Homo sapiens: one gene and its partners. The protein of the gene in region 2 interacts with the protein of the main gene of each other region in a pairwise test. Each region holds a gene or a part of one and is shown on either strand. Other genes may lie near its edges. The genes, in order: MID2, ZBTB16 and FAM217B.

What was found.
Region 1: the proteins of ZBTB16 (region 2) and MID2 interact in binary tests that used the Homo sapiens proteins (3 or more experiments, as listed by UniProt).
Region 3: the proteins of ZBTB16 (region 2) and FAM217B interact in binary tests that used the Homo sapiens proteins (3 or more experiments, as listed by UniProt).

The regions. Positions count from the first base shown.
Region 1 is NC_000023.11:107,926,865-107,930,614, reverse strand, and holds part of MID2 (probable E3 ubiquitin-protein ligase MID2), read right to left. Parts: coding exon 3,542-3,750; 3' UTR 1-3,541. UniProt on the Homo sapiens protein: E3 ubiquitin ligase that plays a role in microtubule stabilization. Mediates the 'Lys-48'-linked polyubiquitination of LRRK2 to drive its localization to microtubules and its proteasomal degradation in neurons.
Region 2 is NC_000011.10:114,237,568-114,241,317, forward strand, and holds part of ZBTB16 (zinc finger and BTB domain-containing protein 16), read left to right. Parts: intron 1-3,750. UniProt on the Homo sapiens protein: Acts as a transcriptional repressor. Transcriptional repression may be mediated through recruitment of histone deacetylases to target promoters. May play a role in myeloid maturation and in the development and/or maintenance of other differentiated tissues.
Region 3 is NC_000020.11:59,938,319-59,942,068, forward strand, and holds the start of FAM217B (protein FAM217B), read left to right. Parts: upstream 1-2,070; 5' UTR 2,071-2,217; intron 2,218-3,750. Other genes in the region: PPP1R3D (protein phosphatase 1 regulatory subunit 3D), read right to left, coding at 714-1,613.

The DNA of each region.
Region 1 (3,750 bases), on a different chromosome or scaffold from region 2:
CTTTGTCACCATGTTGTATCTTAGAAGTCATTTTTCACTGTTTGACTCAGAATTTGGGACTTCAGAGTCAAACTTCATTGCTTACTCCAAACCCAGTTTAATTCCCCACTTTTTTAAGTAGGCTTAGCTTTGAGTGATTTTTGGCTATAACCGAAATGTAAATCCACCTTCAAACAACAAAGTTTGACAAGACTGAAATGTTACTGAAAACAATGGTGCCATATGCTCCAAAGACATTTCCCCAAGATAACTGCCAAAGAGTTTTTGAGGAGGACAATGATCATTTATTATGTAGGAGCCTTGATATCTCTGCAAAATAGAATTAATACAGCTCAAATGGAGTAGTAACCAAGCTTTTCTGCCCAGGAAGTAACAAACATCACTACGAACATGAGAGTACAAGAGGAAACTTTCATAATGCATTTTTTCATTCATACATTCATTCAATAAACATTAGCCAAGCTAATGTTCCAAGCACTGTGCCAGGTATTAACAATATAACAACAATAAAAGACACAGTCCTTCCTCTCAAGGTGTTCAGTCTAGTAGGGAAGATGATTATTCATTAAAATTTTTGGTGCATCAGAATCATGAGGAGCTTGTCAAAAATGTAAATTCCTGCCTATGTTCTCAGATATTCTGGTTAGGTCAGGAGTGGGAACCCAAAATCAATTCTTTTAACAAACACTAAAGGTGATTCTAACACAGGCGGTGTGAGGACCACACTTTGAAAAACACTGCTATACAATGTGATTATTGCTGAGAGAGGGGGATGCTTGGGGTGTCTTTGGATCTCTAAAGAGGGATGCATCATCAAGTCTAAGGAATAAAGAGTTAGTCTGGTTGAGAGAGATAGAGGTGAGGAAAGGTAGTCCAGGATAGAGTCAAAAGTAGGGTGGGGAAATTAGATCTTTGTCCCAGGGCACTAAAATCTAAAAGACACCACAATAAATGAACAGTTTTGGAGAGCCAAGGACAAGGCAAAGGAAATTGTTCTACTGGAATGGAGGTTGCATTTTCTGTACTTACAGCATTTTCACACTATTCCTTTAATTTAAGAAAAATTTCTGTTGTTTACTCTGGGCATTAAAATTGTTAATCATGTTTCTGCTGCAGGCCCAGAGAATAACTTGTGTGAATAGTTGTGTAAATAGTTAAACTTGGCTACCTTAATCAATGTGAGGGGGAAAGTGGCAAAAGATTAAGCTGTGTAAGCAAACAGGGACATGAAAACCCAGACTCTGTAAGGAGTTGGGACCTTCTACTGGGTGCTAAGGGAGCCAGTGAAAAGTTTGATGAAGGGGAAAAAAATCATTTTTTTTTGTTTAAGAATTTGGGGATATGCCCTAGGGAAGAGACAAAGGTGACTGAGAAATGAAGGAGAAATGAAGGACATACATTTTAAAGCACTGTTACGCTGTATTGGAGCTGGGAGTAAGGAAAGAGATTAATATTTATGGCACACTTAGGAAATGTCAAGCGCTGAGCTAAGACAGTTTACATATGCTATCTTTTTTAACCTTTGAAACAGCCTTGTGAAGTAGACATTATTTTACAGAGGAGGAAACAGGCTCAGAGAAGTGAGGTACTTGTCCTAGGTCACAACGCTAATAAATGGTACAGAAACTAGGATCATTTGAATCCAAAGGTTATGAGCTTTCCACTACAGCAAACTATTTACCAGCACTGATGAATTTTACTGAGGTTGTTCATTTCCTGATTAGCAGTAAGCACATATGGTATTTAAAATCAAAAAAGATGACATTGCTGCTAGATTTATATTTTTGAGCCTTCCTTGTGTGTCTGCATCAGTCTTGCCTTCCACATTAAGTGAACAAACAATACATAACTGTTATTGGGGAGGATTATATACTTTGTTTCTTCCACAGAATAGTAAGCCATTTGGCAGCAGGTAGAGCATTTTGTTAATATGTGCACTCCCATGGCAGTAGTTTGGTACCTGGCATCTAATAGTTTATTGAATGAATTAATAAATGAGCATCCACCAAACTAGGGGAAAGGAAGAGGGGAGTTTTGACATTTCAAGTCTCCAATCTGAGGGAGTTGTTATGGCTACCACTTTGTAATTTTACAACAGTAATATTTTCACAAATCCCAGAAGACTTCCGAAGCCAACTTAGCTCCTGGAAAGGGGAAAGCTCTGGCTCTCTGACATCCCCAATCCCTTCGATGGAAATTTAAAAAAAAAAATCATAGACTACAAGGCTCCATTCCCTTCAACTATACTGGTTAGGACTGGGATGAAGTTTGTCTCCATTTGCGTGGAGGGATTGGCTAAGAGAATGAATACTGTAAACAAGATTGCAAAAGGAATGATTATTTATCCTATTTAAGAAAACAAACTGTTTTCAGACATTCTTGAGCACTTCAGAAGTGTTTTATCTGAAAAAGCAAGTACATTTATATGGGAATAGTTGGTGCATCAATAATACTCAATTTTTACTGATTAAGTAAAGTAGGTTCCTAAAGAGCCTTCACTGTGCAACTTTTTAAAAGCCTAATTCTCATAACTGTGTGTACTTGGGAGTAGTAAAACTTTTTTTTTAATAGTCTATGACAGAATTTTTAACAATTCAGATGGCCATCCTCAAGTAGGTAGCATCACTTCTACCTGATCAATTTTCTATCCAGCAACAGCATCTCTTGTGCAATCTTGTCTGTAAATCTCTGCTAATCCAATAAAGCTCTTCCCATTATCTGTGTCATGGTTGCATGTGTATGTGTGCGTGACAGGAGGGAGGAAGGCAATGATGGATAGAGGGAGGAAATAAATGTTGATTGATTTTGATGTTTCCTTTAGGGGACAAAAATGGATGGTGTAACTTATTTTCCCTTCCAGTATATTTCTCACTCAAATTAGCAAATTAAAAAGTTTTTTGTTCTAGTTCGAGGTGGTGTTTGGAAAAAAAAGTTTTTTGTGTATATGTAATATATAAAGTGAATATGCATAAACATACATACACAAGTGAATATATATAAAGTACATATATGTTCACTTTATATATTACATATACACATTCATGGTTTCCTAACAAACCCTTGATGATAGGTTTTCATCAAAAGTAAAATATAATATGTGATAATTTGACACTGTTCAAAATTCTACATGGCCAAACTGGCCAGTACTAGAAAGGCTGACCACCCCCCGCTCTGGCTTGCTAGCTCCTTATTCAGGGCACCTTTCCACATTATTTAACTAGAATTACCCTAATTGCTTCCAATATAATTTATATTCTTAAATCATTGGGAATTTTTAATTCTCCAATGACAACAGAGGCATTTTCTAAATTTTTCTCCAATGGCTTGAACGCAGACTACTCAGATAATTTGTTCTGAAAAACTCAATAAATTAATTCAAATACAAGCTTTAATGCACAAAAATTAAATCTGCAATATCTAGTTATTTTGGATGCTTCAAACAAACTTTATTTTGTGTCTCGTATATTGAACGCTAACTTAGGTGTAGGAGGGGAAGAACTGCTGAACTAGAGAGCCAGTGAATTATATACTCTCCTGAAACTTAATGACAGGTTTTCATCCCAGAAACATAAGGGGATTCTTGAGGCCTGCAGTTGCATTCCTGCCGCTCAGGGTAATCAATAAAATCTGGGGCAGGCAAGCCAGACAGGATCATTAGGGATTTGTTCCAGATTGTAAATGTTGGACAAACTGGAAGAATGAAGGTCACATCAAAAGTATGAAGATGGAGAGAGTTAGCTGGGTCATAGA
Region 2 (3,750 bases):
GCTAATGAATTGCTAATACAATTTTCTAGATAATTTTATTTCCATAGTCCCACATTTTAATGTGTTTCCAAAAGCTAGCATTTATTTGCTTAATCTCCCAGTGTAATAGAATCTGCCCTGACTCATCATACATGCGAACAATCAGCTAGGCTGAAACGCCAGCAAATTGTTTAATAACTCACATCTAGTCTCTAGATTTTTAACTCGCATGCACCAATAGCTTTTCTTGTGTCTCATCCACATCTCCCCCACTTTTCCATTTTTTTAAAAATACTTTTCTATCATCATAGCTGTTAGTTTCTAAGCAGAAAAATGGGGAAAGTGGATGCTGAGTCTCAGAGGCTCCCCTTTCTTCCCCTGGGAGCCTTGGTTGGTGGATACGTGACCAAGGAGCACCCCTGCACCTTGTGGAATGTCCCAGGAAGGGGAGAGAGACCACTGTAGGGACATCATAGTGTTTCCTTTCCAGCTGGTGACCATATGACTTCCAGCCTGTTGGCCAGTTGTGGAACTGGCCATCTGGGATTTTTTGCGTGCCACTCCTCCCTTGCTGTCCCACCTTTCTAGGATTTTCTCTCTCCCTTTGCCCTGGCAGCCTCTGCCCTGGTCTGGTCCCTACCCTCCTCCAGTGGCCCATCAGCCCTCTCGCTGCTTCTAACCGCTTGCTGCTGCTGTTGGTCCCCATGTGTGCCCAGAGTCACTGGCTTCAAACACAGGTCAGATCGTGCTAGCACCACTCGTCTTAGTCAAGTCAGGCTGCTATAACAAACTGCCACGGACTGGGTGGCTTATACACAGCAGACATGCATTTCTCACAGCTCTGGAGGCTGGGAAGTCTGTGATTGGGGTGCCAGCATGTTCAGGTTCTGGTGAGGGTCCTCCTCCTGGTTGCAGACTGCTGATTTCTCGGTGTCCTCACGTGGTGGAAGGGGCTAGCTAGCTCTCTGGGCCCTCTTTTACAAGGACACTCATTCCATTTTAATTACCTAATTATCTCTCCCAGGCCCCACTTCCTAATACCATCACCTTAGGGGTTAGGATTTCAAAAAAGGAATCAGAGGGGGACCCAGACATTAGGATCATAGCAACCCTCGGTCCTTTCATGGCACTGCATTGCCTGTAGAATAAAGTCCAACCTGTCCTGCCTGGCATATGCAGCCCTCTGATCTGACTCCCATCACCCTCCCAGCTTGTCTCCATCCCCAGGGCCTGACCTTGGCCCCATCTGCTCTGACATTTGCCAGTGGTGTCTCTCTCCTTAGCCTGGCACATGTGTCCCAACTTCTTGTCCTTTGCTTCTCAGATACTCAACTTTTAAAAGCCTAACTCAAAATCTCAGGAGCTCTTGGAGTCGCCCTGCCTTACCCTCTGGGTGGTTGTTAACTCAGCATCTCCCACTAGTCTGGGACCCAGTTTCTCTGCTCAGCCTTAGCCTGCCCCTGGTCACCTAGCACAGTGCCTGTACTTGGTAGTGGCTCAGTGAGTTGGCTGAATGGACATGAAGTGGGTTCAGGCCACCCTGAGAAGTAGGGACAGCATAGTGGGGCAGTATCGAGGGGCCTTGGAAAGGCCAAGGGGGCAGAGTGCTGCAGTCTGCCTTGCTGGGTGTATTGACACTCAGAGCACCTGTGGGTCTGGCTGTATAGGCTGAGATGTCCTATTGGGAATGCCATTCATGTTCCCTCTGCCCAGGTTCCTTCCATGCCGGGGATCTCAGAGGATGCATAAGGAGAAGCCTTGGCTCTTAAAGGGCATGGCTGGCCTCCAAAGCCTACTCAACCCTACTGATTTAAGGTAGCTGTTTGAACACCTGGCTTAATTTGGGCTCTCTGTGGGGTGGGGGTTAAGGGCAGAGAGGGAGTAGATGCTGGGGGCTCTCAAGTTGAAGGAGTGGGGGCCACCGGGCACAGAACGCATTGCAGATGCACTGTCCTCCTGTGTACGTCGGCCAAGCAGGGAGGGACATTGAAGACTCACTGTCAACTCTTGGCATTGCTTCTGTCCAGAAAGATACATCTCTCATTATGTCTCCCTCCAGCAAGTGAAGCTGAGTAGACTACTCAGCATTTCTGAGAGACCTTGGTGGCTCCCAGTGGGATTGGAAGGCCTCAGAGAGCTATGCCTTGTGACCCAGCCCCAGCTACTGCCCACTCCTGGCCAGGGGTTCTCTAGCCATTGCTGGAGCTGTACTAGAGGCAGGAGTCCTCTGTACCATCCTTACTGGGCCTCTTCCAGGGTAAGCCCAGACAGGCGGGCAGTCAGCTCCAGAGGTAGCATTGAGTCCAGCCCCGTGGTTTCTGAAAGACAAACCGAGATATTTTCAGATCCCAACTCTGCCTCTTTCTGTGTGATCTTAGGCAAGTTATTTAATCTCTCTTTTACACTGGTAAAAAGGGGGATAAGAATGCCTGCCTTGTAGGATTGCAAGTTTTAAATGAACTGACAACATAGATAAGGTACCTAGCATAACGCCTAGATTCGCTCCCCTTCCTTCCTGCTTTTTGTTGGCCAGGAGCAAAATCCTGTGCTGGCTGTTTTTCTCCTTCCCTGCTCAGCCTTCCTGACTGCTGGTGAGATGGGGCGTGGCTCCAGGTGCTTAGACTTCAGTGTCTGCAAAGGGAAGGGATATCAGGGTGGGTGTGAGGGGCACAGAAGTGTGGGGGACAGTGAGAGGTGGGCCTTGCCTGCCTACTAGTCCATCCTAACCCAGCCATGAGTGGGACGGAGGTGGTGAGGACCAGACCTCTCACTTGCTATCTCCATTGATGGCCAGGAAGGCAGGGAGGTTCTTCGTGCCATCCCTTCTCTTCCCCCTACCTTCCACCAGACACTTCCCGATTCCATGCTGAGCAGCCCATGGCTTCCAGCAGCCAAAGCTTTACCCCCTCCCCCCACCCACTCTGGACTGGACTGACAGATGCTAGGCCTACTTACGTTTCCTGCTTGTGCCTTCCCACACAGGGGACAGCGGTGTGGGGCCAAGTGCAGGTGATATTGCCCAGGCACCAGCACAGAGACACACAGATGGGCCTGCCGGGGAGCTCCTGTGCTCAGGAAAACAGAGCCCAAAAGGGTGGGCACTGAGCTGCCAGTTAGGACTCAGACACAAGGTCAGATACTTCCTCCTGTGGTGCTGCAGCTGGAAATTTCGGCCATGGCTCCAGAGCAGTGTCAGAAAGGGATTGGTAACAAACAGAAAATGGCAGCCTGTATGTGTGGGGTACTTTGGGGATGAACAGCCAGTTAGAATTAAATGAAAATCTCACATCACTCGCTAGCTTTCAATCCTTTGACAGTTGCCCATCGGGTTTAGGATGGAACTAAATCTCTTGACGTGGTTTGCAAGACCCTGCATGGCCTGGCCCTTGCCTTTCCCTTTAGCCTCCTCTTCTTCCCCAGCTGCACTGCACCATTCCTCTGTCTGATCCTCCCACCGGCCATGTTTCCTCCTGGCCCAGAGTGTTCACAGACACTATTCCATCTTCCGGATTCCGCCATTCACCTGGTGTTCTGGGTAACGTCGGTCATGAGAGCAGGGACTTTGCATGCTCTTCCTTGGTTATATCCCCAGTGCCAAAAAGACAGCCTTGCTTGTAGAAGGCATCAAATAATACTTGTTGAGTGAATGGACCTAAGATTCATGCTTTAGTGAGTGGAGAAGTAGTTAAAAAAAAAAAACAAAACAGGATCTGTAGCTAGTCTTGGGAAAGCATTAAAATCTAGGGTGTGTGAGTGTGAACCCCAGCCCTG
Region 3 (3,750 bases), on a different chromosome or scaffold from region 2:
TCCTCCCCAGCTGTTAATGTAGGAGACACACAGCCTAACCAGGACAGTCTCAATGCCCAGGAATGGTTGTGTGATGACTGATAAAGCAGAAATTTCTTGCCTATTAATAGTTTCCCACTGTTAGAAGGCTACAGCCGTTGGCAATCAGATGTGGGCTCAGGTTTTCCTTATCCTGGGGCAGGAATGCCTGGAGGGACCACGATGTGGGTCACACTGTACATTCTGTTTACTGTGGGCACAAACACAGAACTTTTTTTTTTTAGCTTATTAAATCGAGAATATTCCTGAGGAGGCATCCGCTATGGGCTAAAGGTCCCAACATCACAATAATAAATAACAGCTATGTTTACAGAGACACATTCAGGACACATGCAAAAGCTTTTCCTAGCAGGAGGACTTGGGCCTTTGCAAAACAAGCTGCTTGGGCCTCCCCAGAGGGCCCACCCTCCCATGCACCTACCCCACCACCCTGCCCCAACTCATTACACAACTCGGCCTTCTGGCCACCTGAGGCTACTTTTTAGACCAAGTGACTCAGACGTTTCAAGTAGAAGACAGGATGGGCCACTGCCAGGGGACCTTGCAGCAGAAAATTAGGTCAGAGGACTTGGAGGGTGGTGAAGAACAACCAGATAGATGTGAGAGCCCAGCAGGGAAATGACAGGAGGCGCAGCTTAGGTGTGGAGGCTCCAGGTGGCCGGTCCCCGCGCGGCTCAGATGAAGTGGATCCAGCTCTCTTCGCACTCCCCGCGAGGCATGTGCAGCGCGTGGTTGCGACATGTGAGGCTGTAGTCTCGGTGGTCGTTGTTGTCCCAGTACTCGGCACCCGCCACTTGGTAGCGCACCGCGAAGTGCACGCGGGAGCCGAGCTCCAGCAGGAAGGGCGGTACTGGAAAGCCGAAGGTGAAAACGTCCTCCGTGCCCTCGGGGCCTGCGGGCCCGCGCCACCGCGCCACCGCCTCGTGGGTACTGCGCCAGCCCGAGAAAGTGTAGCGCACAGCCACCTGCTTCTCGAAGGCCACGTTGCACACGCGCACCGTACCGCTGATGCCAAGGTCCGAGCAAGTGACACGCTCCAGGCACACGAGCTGCCGCTGCAGGCGCTCGCCAAAGTCGGCGGCCTCGACGGGCGGCGGGAAATCGGGCACCAGGCAATGCAGGGTGAACTCCAGGTCCTGGCTGCTGCAGCACAGGTCCGAGTTGATTGCGAGCCGCGACAGCACGTGCAGCGGCACGGACGGGTCGTCTCCCGCGTTGAACACCTTGACCTGTGCCAGCTCCAAGCCCAGGGCGTCGGCGAAGCGCACGCGGAGCTTCTGGCTGCAGCCCGGCCGACACGCAGCGCCCGGCGCGCCCGCGGCCTTCTGGCGGCGCTCGGGGGAGCTGGGCAGTGAGCGCGCCCGCCGCAGGATGATGGGCCGCAGGCGGGGGTCGCAGCCCGACGGCGCTGGCGTTGGCGGCGGCGCGCGGCCCGGGCTCCCAGGGGGCCTACAGGCCCGCGGCTCCAGGGCCACGCCGCCGTCCAGGTCCGACAGGCAGCTGAGGCTCCGGGGGCCGAGCTTCCGGGATCCCAGGGCGCTAGGCAGGACCGCGGAGCTCGGGCCTCTGGACATGGCCCCGCCGGCCGTCGGAAGATGAGGCAGGGATGAGAGACGACCTCCCGACCCCGCGACAGCTCCCTCCGTGCTCAGAAGCCGCAGAGAGTCCACCGTATCTGCAACCTGCGGGGGACCTCTCGGGCCCGGTGCGCCCTACCCTTGGTTCGCCACCTTGCTCCTCGAGTCCTTGTCCAGGTCCTCCGCTTCTTGCGGTTAAAGAAATTGTAAGAGTGGGGAGTTTTTCTCTAGTGGAAGCTTTCAGAGGCCTCCCGGGAGCGCAGGGTAGCGCCTCTTTTTTCTTCTTGCTTCCTTGGAGGTTCTTACAAGAAGGCTGCGTTCCGGGAGCGGCCCCTCCCACTTTCCCGGTCCGCGGCGTTACTTACAAGGCTGCAACTTGACCGGGTGCAACTTCCTAGCGAGCCTCCGCCCCGCCCCTCGTGACGCCGCCTGCAGGCGGGCCCCCGCCGGCCTCAGCTCAGCCAGGGAGCTCAGCGGAGCTGCGCGCCTCCGCCTCCAGCTCCCCTGCCGCAGCGCGCCGCAGCCGGGCGTCCCCGCGCGGGCGCCGGAGAGGAAGGAAGGCTGGCAGCCTCGTCACGTGTCCGCTGCAGTCGCGAAACAGGTCTGATCAATTTCTGTTTACGTCTGCCTGGATTGCGCGCCTATCGATCATAGACTTTGTCTGCACAAACGGAGGACAAGGAAAATGCATGCTGCGTGTCCTTAGATTTCTGGGTTGTGGATGGGGGGAGCGGTGGTGCAAAAACCGGCCTTGCCAGGAGCTGGTCTCAGGCTAATTTTAAACATCGAGGCCAGCCCACACTTTGGACAGGTTCACTGCAACCTGGACCCTTGGTCAGACCGAGGGAGCCTCACTGCGTAGAGGAGCAGCGTCATGTCCACATCACCCAGAATGCTTTGCCGCACCGAATGGCCAGCAGATTCCCTTGAGGGTGGGGAGGGGAGGTGCTGCTGTTGTCTTCCTGGACTCCGCGCCAGAGAGGAAGACAGGGGAACAAGAGTTATTACCCGCTGATGACTTCTGCAGCTGCCCTTAATCAGCCTCTGGCGCTTGGGGAGCATATTTGTAGCCAGAATCTCCGACTTTTAGCTTTGTTTCCAAGCAAGCCAGAAACACCAGCAAGGCCTGGAGCTTGTTTTCTGCCTATTTAGAACCCTGCAGGCATTCGTGTCTCTCACCCGGTAGCTTTGAGCACAAAACCCCACAGCCTTTGGTGTAAAGCATACCAGGTGAAATGAAGTAGAAAAGATGCAAGTGCACTTTCCAGAGAGCAGTTTGGGGCCAGCCATTCCATTAAGAAGGTTCCTTTTTATTGTCCAGAGGGACAAAGCAGAAAGAAAACCAGACTAATGAAAGGGGGTTGATTCAAGAACATTCGTTGCATCTAAAATGAGTCAAGGCTGTTGATTGTGGTATAATTCATGAAATGTGAGAGAATGATTTTATTTATCATTGGATGTAAGCTAACTAAAAAGGCTTACATGATTAATGTGGGAAAAATACAGGAAAGTTTCAGGAAGAAAATAAAAATCTTCTATAATCATCTCTTTTATTTTACAGAGACAGGTGATACGGGAAAGAGAAGTATCCAATTTCCATTCAGTGCACTTTTAATAGGCCACTCAAAATGAGAGGGGAATAACAGCAATATGTGGTATAGGTCAACAATGCTTCATAAAGAGATGATATATAATATGTAATATGTATGAATATATGGAAAGTCTTATAATGGATTGATGTGATAGAGAAGGCCGAAAAATTGAATGGGAACGTTCCTCCTAGAGTTTAAGCTCCTTCTGAACAGGGACGTGCATAATCATTGCCATTTTTCTGGGTACTCCTGTAATTATTTGTTGCATGAATGAATGATTGGGCAATGCAATGATTGAACGCTGTAATAAGACCTGACCTTATTTAGCCTTCCAGATTTCTTCAACATATTATTTCCAAGGAAGATTATACCTGTGTGTGAACAGGGAGAGAGAGAGAGAGATGGAATCCATTCACAGTATTTATAGTAGTGTGATCCTGTGATCCTGTCTCTAATATCTACTGTAATAAGCAGAAAAGACAAAGCTGTAAGCATAAGACAATGTCTCCCTTCCCCAGTATTTCATAACCTAGAGTGCAAAC